2 separate regions of the Homo sapiens genome follow, and region 2 is linked to region 1. Evidence: fine-mapped expression QTL. Tissue or cell type: whole blood. Region 1 holds a variant in brackets; the other region holds the start of a gene. All regions are shown on one strand. Distances are between the middles of the regions.

Region 1 (5,147 bases):
TGGGTTCACGCCATTCTCTTGCCTCAGCCTCCCAAGTAGCTGGGACTACAGGCATGTGCCACCACACCCGGTTAATTTTTTGTATTTTTCAGTAGAGACAGGGTTTCACCATATTGGCCAGGCTGGTCTCGAACTCCTGACCTTGTGATCCACTGGCCTCAGCCTCCCAGAGTGCTGGGATCACAGGCGTGAGCCACCATGTTCAGCCACTGCATGGATTATTGATTATAAAAATTAATACTTGTGGTATATCCACATATGGAATATTATTCAACAATAAAAAGGAATGAGGCATATGAAATGTCCAGAATAGGCAGATCTATAGGAACAGAAAGTATATCAGTGGTTGCCTAGGGCTGGAGGGATGTAAGGGGTGGGGGAGTGATGGCTAAGTGGCACAGGGGTTATTTTGAGGGTAATCAAAATGTTCTAAAGTTGATTGTGGTGACAGTTGCACAACTCAACATTCTAAGAAGCAATGAAATGTGCATTTGTATAGTATATGAACTATATCTCAATAAAGCTGTTCAAAAATACTGAAAGCTAACATTTAGCTAATGTATACTGAACACTTGCCATTACTGTGCTGCAATTTATGTGCCTTCTCATTTAATCCTGGAATAATAATAATACTGTATACCTAGCATTAGCACTTGCTACATGACAGGAACTTTTTTTTTTTTTTAAGACGGAGTTTCACTCTTGTTGCCCAGGCTGGAGTGCAGTGGCACAATCTCGGCTTGCCACAACCTCCGCCTCCTGGGTTCAAGTGATTCTCCTGCCTCAGCCTCCAGAGTAGCTGGGATTACAGGCAGGCGCCACCACGCCGGGAAAATTTTCTATTTTTGTAGTAGAAACGGGGTTTCTTCATGTTGGTCAGGCTGGTCTTGAACTTCTGACCTCAGGTGATCCGCCGCCTGCCTTGGCTTCCCAAAGTGCTGGGATTAAAAGCTTGAGCCACTGCGCCCAGCCAGGAACTTGTTTTTTTGTTTTGTTTTTTTCGAGAAAGGGTCAGCCAGGCGCGGTGGCTCAAGCCTGTAATCCCAGCACTTTCGGAGGCTGAGGCGGGCGGATCACGAGGTCAGGAGATCCAGACCATTCTGGCTAACATGGTGAAACCCCGTCTCTACTAAAAAAATACAAAAGATTAGCCGGGCGTGGTGGCGGGCGCCTGTAATCCCAGCTACTCGGGAGGCTGAGGCAGGAGAATGCTGTGAACCCGGGAGGCGGAGCTTGCAGTGAGCCGAGATTGCGCCACTGCACACTCCAGCCTGGGCGACAGAGAGACTCCGTCTCAAAAAGAAAAAAAAAGAAAAAAAAAGAGAAATGGTCTTGCTCTGTCACCCAGGCTGGAATGCAGTGGCACAATCATAGCTCACTTCGTACTTGATCCTGGGCTCAAGGGATCCTCCTGCCTCAGCCTACCAAGTACCTGGAATTACAGGCATGAGCCACTCTGCCTATTTTTTTTTTTTTTTTTGAGATGGAGTCCACGCCCGGCTAATTTTTGTGTATTTTTTTTTAGTAGAGACGGGGGTTCACCGTGTTAGCCAGGATGGTCTCGATCTCCTGACCTTGTGATTCGCCCGCCTTGGCCTCCCAAAGTGCTGGGATTACAGGCGTGAGCCACTGCGCCCGGCCTTTTTTCTCTCTCTCTCTCTTTTTTTTTTTTTGGGACGTAGTTTCCCTCTTGTTGCCCAGGCTGGAGTACAATGGCGCGCGATCTTGGCTCACCGCCACCTCTGCCTCCTGGGTTGAAGCGATTCTCCTCTCTCGGCTTCCTGAGTAGCTTGGATTACAGGCATGCACCACCATGCCCAGCTAATTTTATATTTTTAGTAGAGACGGGGTTTCTCCATGTTGGTCAGGCTGGTCTCGAACTTCCGACCTCAGGTGATCCGCCCGCCTCGGCCTCCCAAAGTGCTGGGATTACAGGCATGAGCCACTGCGCCCGGCCTGCCTGACTCCTTTAAAGCATTTTTTATATGCATCAACTCATTAATCTCCATATGAACCTAATACTGTAGATGCAATTATTACCCCATTCTATTTTATTTTATTTATTTTATTTTATTTTATTTTAGACAGGGTCTTGCTCTGTCACCCTGGTGGGGCGCAGTGGTGCAATCATGGTTCACTGCAGCCTCAAGCTCCCTGGCTCAAGTGTTCCTCTCACCTCCGCCTCCCAAGTAGCTGGGACCATAGGTGGGTGCCACCATGCCTGGCTAAATTTTTTTTTTTTTTTAGAGAGACACAAAGTCTCACTATGTTGCCCAGGCTTATTACCCCATTTTAAGATAAGGAAACTGGGGTCTGAGAGGTTAAGTAACTTGCCTAGGGTCACATGGCTTGTAAGTGGTAGAACCAGGATTTCAACTCAAGTTGTTGGACTCCTGAGCCCAAGATCTTATTTTGTTTGCCTGCAACTACACTTGCACCATGGGACTGGCCCCCTGGGCTGGCTGATTGGATCTGCAGAACTCTCCATTTCCTAACTCCAGTCCTTTGCATGGGTCAGCTGCAC[C/T]TCCTGTACCTTCAGAAAGAGAGTTCCCTTTCTAGCTTAAAGCTGAGGAGGTTTCTGTTACTTACCTGATTCAAAAAGGATAATTTCTGCCTACAGGGTAGCACAGGGGCTTCCTAAGAGCTCAGTGAGCAGCGAACATGTGATCCTGGCATCTGAGGACCCACAGAGACCACATGCCAGAGAAAAGATGAAGTGCTTAAGCTTCCGGAAGGCCAACAGCTCAGCAGCCCTTGGCTGTATGTATTTCAATGTGTAAGTGTCCTGTGAAGAGTTTTTAAAATAAAAAATAACTTATATTGCTGTTTTTTTTTTTGTTTTGTTTTGTTTTGTTTTGTTTACTGTATGCTTACTAAAGTTCATCACAGCCATAACAGGAAGAAAATTTCTTTTTATTCTTTTAAAAATAAAAGATTTTATAGGTTAATTTATAAGCAGTAGAATAGTGTGATTAAAATCCTGGGCCCTGCACTCTGGAAAACTTTGTCAGTTTCTTTTTCTTTTTCTTTTTTAAGACAGAGTCTCGCTCTATCGCCCAGACTGGAGTGCAGTGGCGGAATCTTGGCTCACCGCAACCTGTGCTTCCCAGGTTCAAGTGATTCTCCTGCCTCAGCCTCCTGAGTAGCTGGGATTACAGGCGTTCACCACCATGCCCGGCTAACGTTTGTATTTTTAGTAGAGACGGGGTTTCACCATGTTGGCCAGGCTGGTCTTGAACTCCTGACCTCAGGTGATCCACCTGCCTCGGCCTCCCAAAGTGCTGGGATTACAGGCGTGAGCCACCGTGGCTAGCCTGTCAGTTTCTTAAAAAATGAACCGCATAGGCGGGTACAGTGGCTTGTGCCTGTAATCCCAGCACTTTGGGAGGCTGAGGGAGGTGGATCACCTGAGGTCAGGAGTTTGAGACCAGCCTGGCCAACATGGTGAAACCCCATCTCTAGTAAAAATACAAAAATTAGCTGGGAGTGGTGGTGGGAGCCTGTAATCCCAGCTACTCAGGAGGCTGAGGCAGAAGAATCGCTTGAACCCAGGAGAAGGAGGTTGCAGTGACCCAAGATCCTGCCATTGCACTCCAGCCTGGGCGACAAAAGTAAAACTCCATCTCAAAAAAAAAAAAAAAAAAAAAAAAAAGAATCACACAGCTACCATACAACCTGGCAATTGCAATCCTGAGCATTTATCCCAGAGAAATGAAGACTTACATTAAGACAAAAACCTGTAGTTGAATGTTTAAAGCAGTTTTATTGGTAGTATCCCCAAACTGGAAACAATCCAGATGTTCTTCAATAGGTGGATGGTTAAACAAACCATGGTACATCCACAGAATACCACTCAGCATGGAGTATTACCCAGAAATAAAAAGAAACGAGGCCGGGCATTGTGGCTCATGCCTGTAATCTCAACACTTTGGGAGGCTGAGGTGGGAGGATCACTTGAGCCCAGGAGCTCAAGGCCAGCCTGAGCAACACAGGGAGACTCCACTTGTACAAAAAATTACAAAAATTAGCTGGGCATGGTGGCACACACCTGTAGTCCCAGCTACTCGGGAGGCTGAAGTGGCAGGATCACTTGAGGCAGAGAGGTCGGTGATGCCAGTGAGCTCTGATTGCGCTACTGCACTCCAGCCTGGGTGACAAAGCCAGACCCTGTCTCAAAAAAAAAAAAAAAAAAAAGAGAGAGAACAAATATGAATACTTGGAACAATCTGGATGAATTTCCAGAGAATCATGATGAGTGAAAAAAAGCCAGTCTCAAAAGATTAAACACTGTATGATTTATTTATATAAAATTCTTGAAATGACAAAATTATAAAAATGGAGACAGAATTACCAGTGTAAAGGAGGAGGTAGAGGCAGGAGGAAGTGGGGTTGGCTATTGAAAGGTCAATATGAGGAATCCTGGTAGTGTTGGAAATACTCTGTGTCTTGACTGTATCAATGTGAATATCTTGGTTGTGATACTGTGTTGTATTTTTTCAAGAAGTTACCATCGGGGGAAACTAGGTAAAGAGTACACAGGATCTCTTTGTTCCCTCCCTCCCTCCCTCCCTCCCTTCCTTCCTTCCTTCCTTTTTTGAAACAGGGTCTTATTCTGTCACCGAAGCTGGAGTGCAGTGGCACAATCATGGCTCACTGCAGCCCCGGCCTCCTGGGCTCAAGCTATCCTCCCACCTCACCCTCCCAAGTAGCTAAGAACACAGGCGCGTGCCACCACTCCTGGCTCATTTTAAAACATTTTTTGTAGAGATGGAGTCTCCCTATGCTGCCCAGGCTGGTCTATGACTCCTGGGCTCAAATGAGCCCACCTCAGCCTCCCAAAGTGCTGGGATTACAGGCGTGAGCCACCTTGCCTGGCCTATATTATTTCTTATAGCTGCATGTGAAGCTATAATTATCTCAAAATTAAAAGTTTAATTAGGAAAAAATCCTAGACCCTATGCTTAAAACATGCTGTGTGTCCTGGAGTAAGTTGCTTTTCCTCCCTGTCCCTTAGTTTTTACTTGTCTTATAGATTTGTTGTGAGAAATAAGAAATAAGTGATATTATGTATATAAAATGCTTAGTACATTGTATATTAGCGTTAGTACTGATACACTGTAAGAACCTAATAAATATTAGTATGATTA
Region 2 (5,147 bases), 47 kb after region 1:
GAGCAAGACTCCATCTCAAAAAAAAAAAAAAAAAAAGATAAGAAAAAGAAACCTCCCAGATAGCAGCAGTTTTCTCCACTGAGGAAACATGGCTTCTGTGTAAAGATCCCTCCCTCAAAGCCTTTTCTCCCTAGACCAGGCACTGACCCAGAGAGGGGTGTACAGTGTCTGATCTCAGGAACAGGCTCAGGCACCCCCTTGTGAGACACTCTGGAGAAAGCTGTGCGTGCCATGGCCACGTTCTGATAATAGCAAGCAAGTATCACGCAGTTACTATGTTCCAGTCACAGTGCTTCAGCTTTTGCTTGTATTCTGAGTTAATTCTCCCAACAATCCCTTAGAGATACTGTAAAATCCCCATGGGAAGAAACCACAGATCAGAGAAGTGATTACTGGCTAAGCCACACACTGCAAGTTAGCAGGAGGGCTGGGACATGAACCCAGCACTCTTGCTCTCTAGTGTTCAGGTGTTCTCAATAGTAACATTATTTCCATCTTTCCAAAGAAGTCACACAGCTGAGAAGCTGCAGGAGAAGAGCCATTCCTCCACATGGCGCTCCTAAATCACGGCAGAGAAGGGTAAGCAAGCTAACAAAAACCAGGGCACAAACTATACACCGACGGAGGTAGGATCCCCAGAAACCACGTTACTAAGAGAAAAGCAGGGATTTTCCTGGGGTCATAGCACTCCACCAAATCCCAGGTCCAGAATACAACTTCCACCACACTCTAGGCCTGTAAACTAAAGCAACTAGAAGCTCCTAGTGCCGTGCAATCTCCGAAATCATAAGGCCAAAGAACAAGATATTCAGTGGGGTTAATGAAGAAAGCCTCTTTCTGAGCCCATCGTGGGCCTCAATGTTCTTCCTGTAAAATGGGGCTATAGCGTAGCTTGTATTGCTGGTTTAGTCCTGAGGACTTAGGTTAAAGGCGAAAAAAACTCAGAGCCTGGTATCTAGTAGGTGCATAATAAATGATAAGATGTCCATTATCGCTGCTGCTGGTAGTGGTGGGGGAGTGCGAACTGTCAGTCTGGTTAGGTCCAGCCTAATTCCCGGTCTCCCTGCAAAGCCCCTGCGGGCTATGCCGGGATGCGAATGCGGGGGGGTGGAGGGGAGCGGCGCGAAGGGAGGGTGGGGGAGGAATTTCTGGAAAACAAACTTCTGGGCCTTCAGACCACTTACTTAGCAGGGCGCAGCCTAACCCGCGCTTGGCTTCGGAAGCCGCGACCAGGGTTGTCCCCTCTCCCCCCAGCTTTGGCTGCCGCCGCCGCGTACCGGGCGGCCCGCCAAGCCCCCAGAGCCCCTGCGCTCTCCCTCCAAAGCAGGAGTGCGGTGGACATAGGATGAGGTCGACTTTCACTGGCCAGTCCCAGGTGCCTACGCCCCGCGCTGGGGGACAGGAGCCGGGAGGCACCCCAGGAAGGGTCCTCTGCCCGCCGGCCCCCGCGAAGAGGAAGGGACTCCGCGGAAGGGGGCGGGGAGGAGGAGTGGTCTGGCCGCTCCGGCCGGGATTTGCCTGGACTTGAAGACGCTCAGGAGCCCAAAGCTCGGAGAGCCTCCAGAAGGCTTCTCCCTCATTGGCCAGGAGTCCGAGGGAGCCGAGGAAGGATCCGCGGCCCTGGGGTGGGGCGGTGAGGGAGAGGGGGAGAGGGAGGGAGGAGGGGGAGAGGGAGGGGGAGAAGGAGGGAGAGGGGAGACAGAGTGGGGGAGGGGTGCCGAGGGCCGCGGCTGCCAGTTGATGCAACCCGGGTCCCGGGTTACGCGCTCGGCTTTCCCTCCCCGAGCCCAGGACACACCGACTCAGCTCCGGACAGCCTGAGGCTCAGACGCGGTTCGGGGTTCCAGGGAAGAGGGGCGTCGCGCGGCCGCCGCTTACCTCTCCGGGGCCCGAGTCGCCGACGCCGCCCGGGGCGAACCGCAGGTAGTCCTTGAGCTCTGCGCGGCACTCGGAGTCCGCCACGATCATGGTGCGCGCCAGGACCCGGTCGCGGCTCGCCGACGACCCGTGCACCCGAGTGGGTTTCGGAGGGACGCCCGAATGAAGCCGGGACTGGGCGCCGCCGGGGAGCTTCTAGAACCCCGGGGCGTCTCTCGGGGCTCCAGAACGCTCCGGAATCCGAGAACGGCCGCTTTGGTGCTGGACTCTTCCCCCAGTCGGGCTTCGGGAACGGCGAACGGCCTCGGGGGCCTGGGAAGGGCCGCAGCGCAGGGGTTTTCACGGCCTCGGAAGTCCGCAGGGGCCAGGGCTGCTCCCGGACCCAGCGCTCCTCAGCATCCCCGCCGCGGAACTGCCAGCGCTCGCCGGGCTCTGACACCAGCAGTTCAGCCCGCTGCGGTCCCCGGGGGAGGGCGGGGACACAAAAGCCCGGCGGTCCAGCCAATCAGAGGTCTGTTTCCCCGGGGAGGCGGGGGAAACTCCGCCCCCTGGAGTCACGGGCTCCGCCAATCAGCACCGGGGAGCGCCCGGAATTCTGGGAGTTGTAGTCCGCCTCGGGTGAATGCTGCAAACTTTTGCAAGACGGTTTAGTCAGATCCCTGGCAACACCAGACGGCAGTGACAGCCCTAAGAGTCATTAGGGTTGCGTGATGAAAAGGGACTTCACTGGGCTAGGCCAAACAGCCGAGTGTGAAATCTCCTAAATGAATTCTTCATCTTTTCAGTTCCTGGAGGGACTGGCTAGGGTTAAGAGAGGTTTGGCTCGCGTCCTATCCGGTGCTGCTAATTATAGAACTGAACCCCAGATATTTAGAGGTCAGAGGGCACAACCCTGCTCCCCCTGGCCTCGGGGAAGCTCCAAAGATGCGAGACACAGGGAATTCACCTTATTTGTGGAGCCTCAGGAAAAGCCTTCATTCCTTGAAATGTCATTGGTAACTTCGTGTGGAACCTCAATCCCTATTGCTGGAAGTTTTCTTCCTTCTGCTACCCGTCCTGGCTTCCACCCCTCCCACCCTCCTCGAAACTTTGTAACAAGGTGTTCTGCTGGATCTTTGCTCACCTCTCCCTCTGGCCTTCTCTGACTCCTCTTTCACCACCCACTTCCTAAAACGTGGGTGCTTCCCCAGTTTGTTTTTGCCCCTCTTCCCTCCAGACACTCTCCCTGATCTCATTCACTTCCTGGCCTTCAACTCGCCTCTTGCCAGAAAGTTGCCTCTACCAACACCTCAGCACCTCCAAGCTAAATTCATTTTCTATTCATTTCAAACGGAGCCTCTTCCTTCACAGTTTTCCTTCAGAGCTCCTTTTTTTGTTTCCATTTTAAAGTTATTGTTTATTCTAGACAGGGAATCCTGCCAGGGGTGAGGGTGGATAAGACCCCCAAGTCCCCCTCTGAGACTTCTAAGTCTAAGCTTACAATTCCAAAGATGAAACCGACTTGGTTTCCTGCCTCCAGATTCTTGGGAAAAAGAGATTAATCTCACCCTCCCCTGAGCTCCCAAGGCACTTGAGCTGGATCTCTTTTCACATGTATCACATTCTACCTAGTTTTTTTTGTTTTTTGTTTTTTTGTTTTCTGTTTTTTTGTTTTTGTTTTTTGTTTTTTAGTAAATAGAGACAGGGTCTCAATATGTTGCCCAGGCTGGTCTCAAACTCCTGAGCTCAAGCGATTCTCTCACCTCAGCCTCCCAAAGTGCTAGGATTATAGGCATGAGCCACCATGTCCAGCCACATTCTGCCTTGTATTGTAATTTTCTATGTACATGTTTTATCTGACCCTTTTTTCTTTTTATTAGTATTGTTTTTTAGAGATGGGGTCTAGCTCTGTCACCCAGACTGGAGTACAGTGGCATGATCATAGCACGCTGCAGCTTCAAATTCCTGGGCTCAAGCGATATTCCCTCCTCAGCCCCCCAAATCAATCACTGGGGTTACAGGTGTGCACCACTGAGTCTGGCTTATCTGATCTTTTTAATTGTAAACTCCTTGAGGGCAGGGTCAACATCTTTTTTTTTTTTTTTTTTTTTTTTTTAAACAGAGTCGCACTCTGTCTCCCAGGCTGGAGTGCAGTGGCCCGATCTTGGCTCACTGCAACCTCTGCCTCCCAGGTTCAAGCAATTCTCCTGCCTCAGCCTCCTGAGTAGCTGGGATTACAGGCAAGTGCCACCACACCCGGCTAATTTTTGTATTTTTAGTGGAGACAGGGTTTCACCATGTTGATCAGGCTGGTCTCGAACTCCTGACCTTGTGCTCTGCCCGCCTCAGCCTCCCAAAGTGCTGGCATTATAGGCATGAGCCACCGCGCCTGGCTGGCAGGGTCTACATCTTGACATCCATCTCCTGCTCTATGTCACCTAGCAAAATGTCCTGACAATCATATGCCCTTGGTCACGGAATCTTCCTTTGCATCAACTTCCTCTCTAAACTACCCTGTGTCAGCTTCAGCTTTCATTTAAAAAATTTACTATGTGGCCAGGCGTGGTGGCTCACGCCTGTAATCCCAGCACTTTGGGAGGCCGAGGTGGGCGGATCACGAGGTCAGATCAAGACCATCCTGGCTAACATGGTGAAACCCCGTCTCTACTAAAAATACAAAAAATTAGCCAGGCGTGGTGGCGGGTGCCTGTAGTCCCAGCTACTTGGGAGGCTGAGGCAGGAGAATGGCGTGAACCCAGGAGGCAGAGCTTGCAGTGAGCCGAGATCGTGCCACTGCACTCTAGCCTGGGTGACAGAGTGAGATTCTGTCTCAAAAAAAAAAAAAAATTTACTATGTAATGTCAAAGTCCAGATCAAAAGGCTTCACTGGTATTTCATCAGCTACAGAATTAAGATCAAACTCCTTGGGTGGGCATGGTGGCTCACGCCTGTGATCCCAGCACTTTGGGAGGCAAAGGCAGGCAGATCACCTGAGGTCAGGAGTTCAAGATCATCCTGGCCAACATCGTGAAACCCCATCTCTACTAAATATACAAAAATTAGCCAAGCGTGGTGGTGCACGCCTGTAGTCCCAACTACTCGAAAAGCTGAGGCAGGAGAATCGCTTGAACCCGGGAGGCAGAGGTTGCAGTGAGCTGAGATCGTGCCACTGCACGATCTGGGTGTCAGAGCGAAACCCTGTCTCAAAAAAAAAAAAAAAAAAAATCAAACTCCTATCTTAACATTCAAGGTTTGCCAAGATGCACCTAATTTACCCTCCCATTCTTACC

Evidence for each region. PIP is the estimated chance that this variant, and not a neighbour inherited with it, causes the effect.
Region 2: SESN2 starts here. The variant in region 1 is fine-mapped to the expression of SESN2 in whole blood (TOPMed, PIP 0.93).

What each region holds. Positions count from the first base shown.
Region 1 is chr1:28,304,045-28,309,191 of GRCh38, reverse strand. No RefSeq gene overlaps it. Among named protein-coding and RNA genes, the nearest start is that of MED18, 22 kb to the left of the region's middle. The variant C/T (reference allele first, on the strand shown) is at 2,525.
Region 2 is chr1:28,256,669-28,261,815 of GRCh38, reverse strand. SESN2 (sestrin 2) reads right to left here and starts at 2,298. Exons shown (of 10, transcript NM_031459.5): 1 at 1,879-2,298. The coding sequence starts at 1,968. RefSeq lists silencers at 1,388-1,447, 2,228-2,437 and enhancers at 1,707-2,555, 2,548-2,727.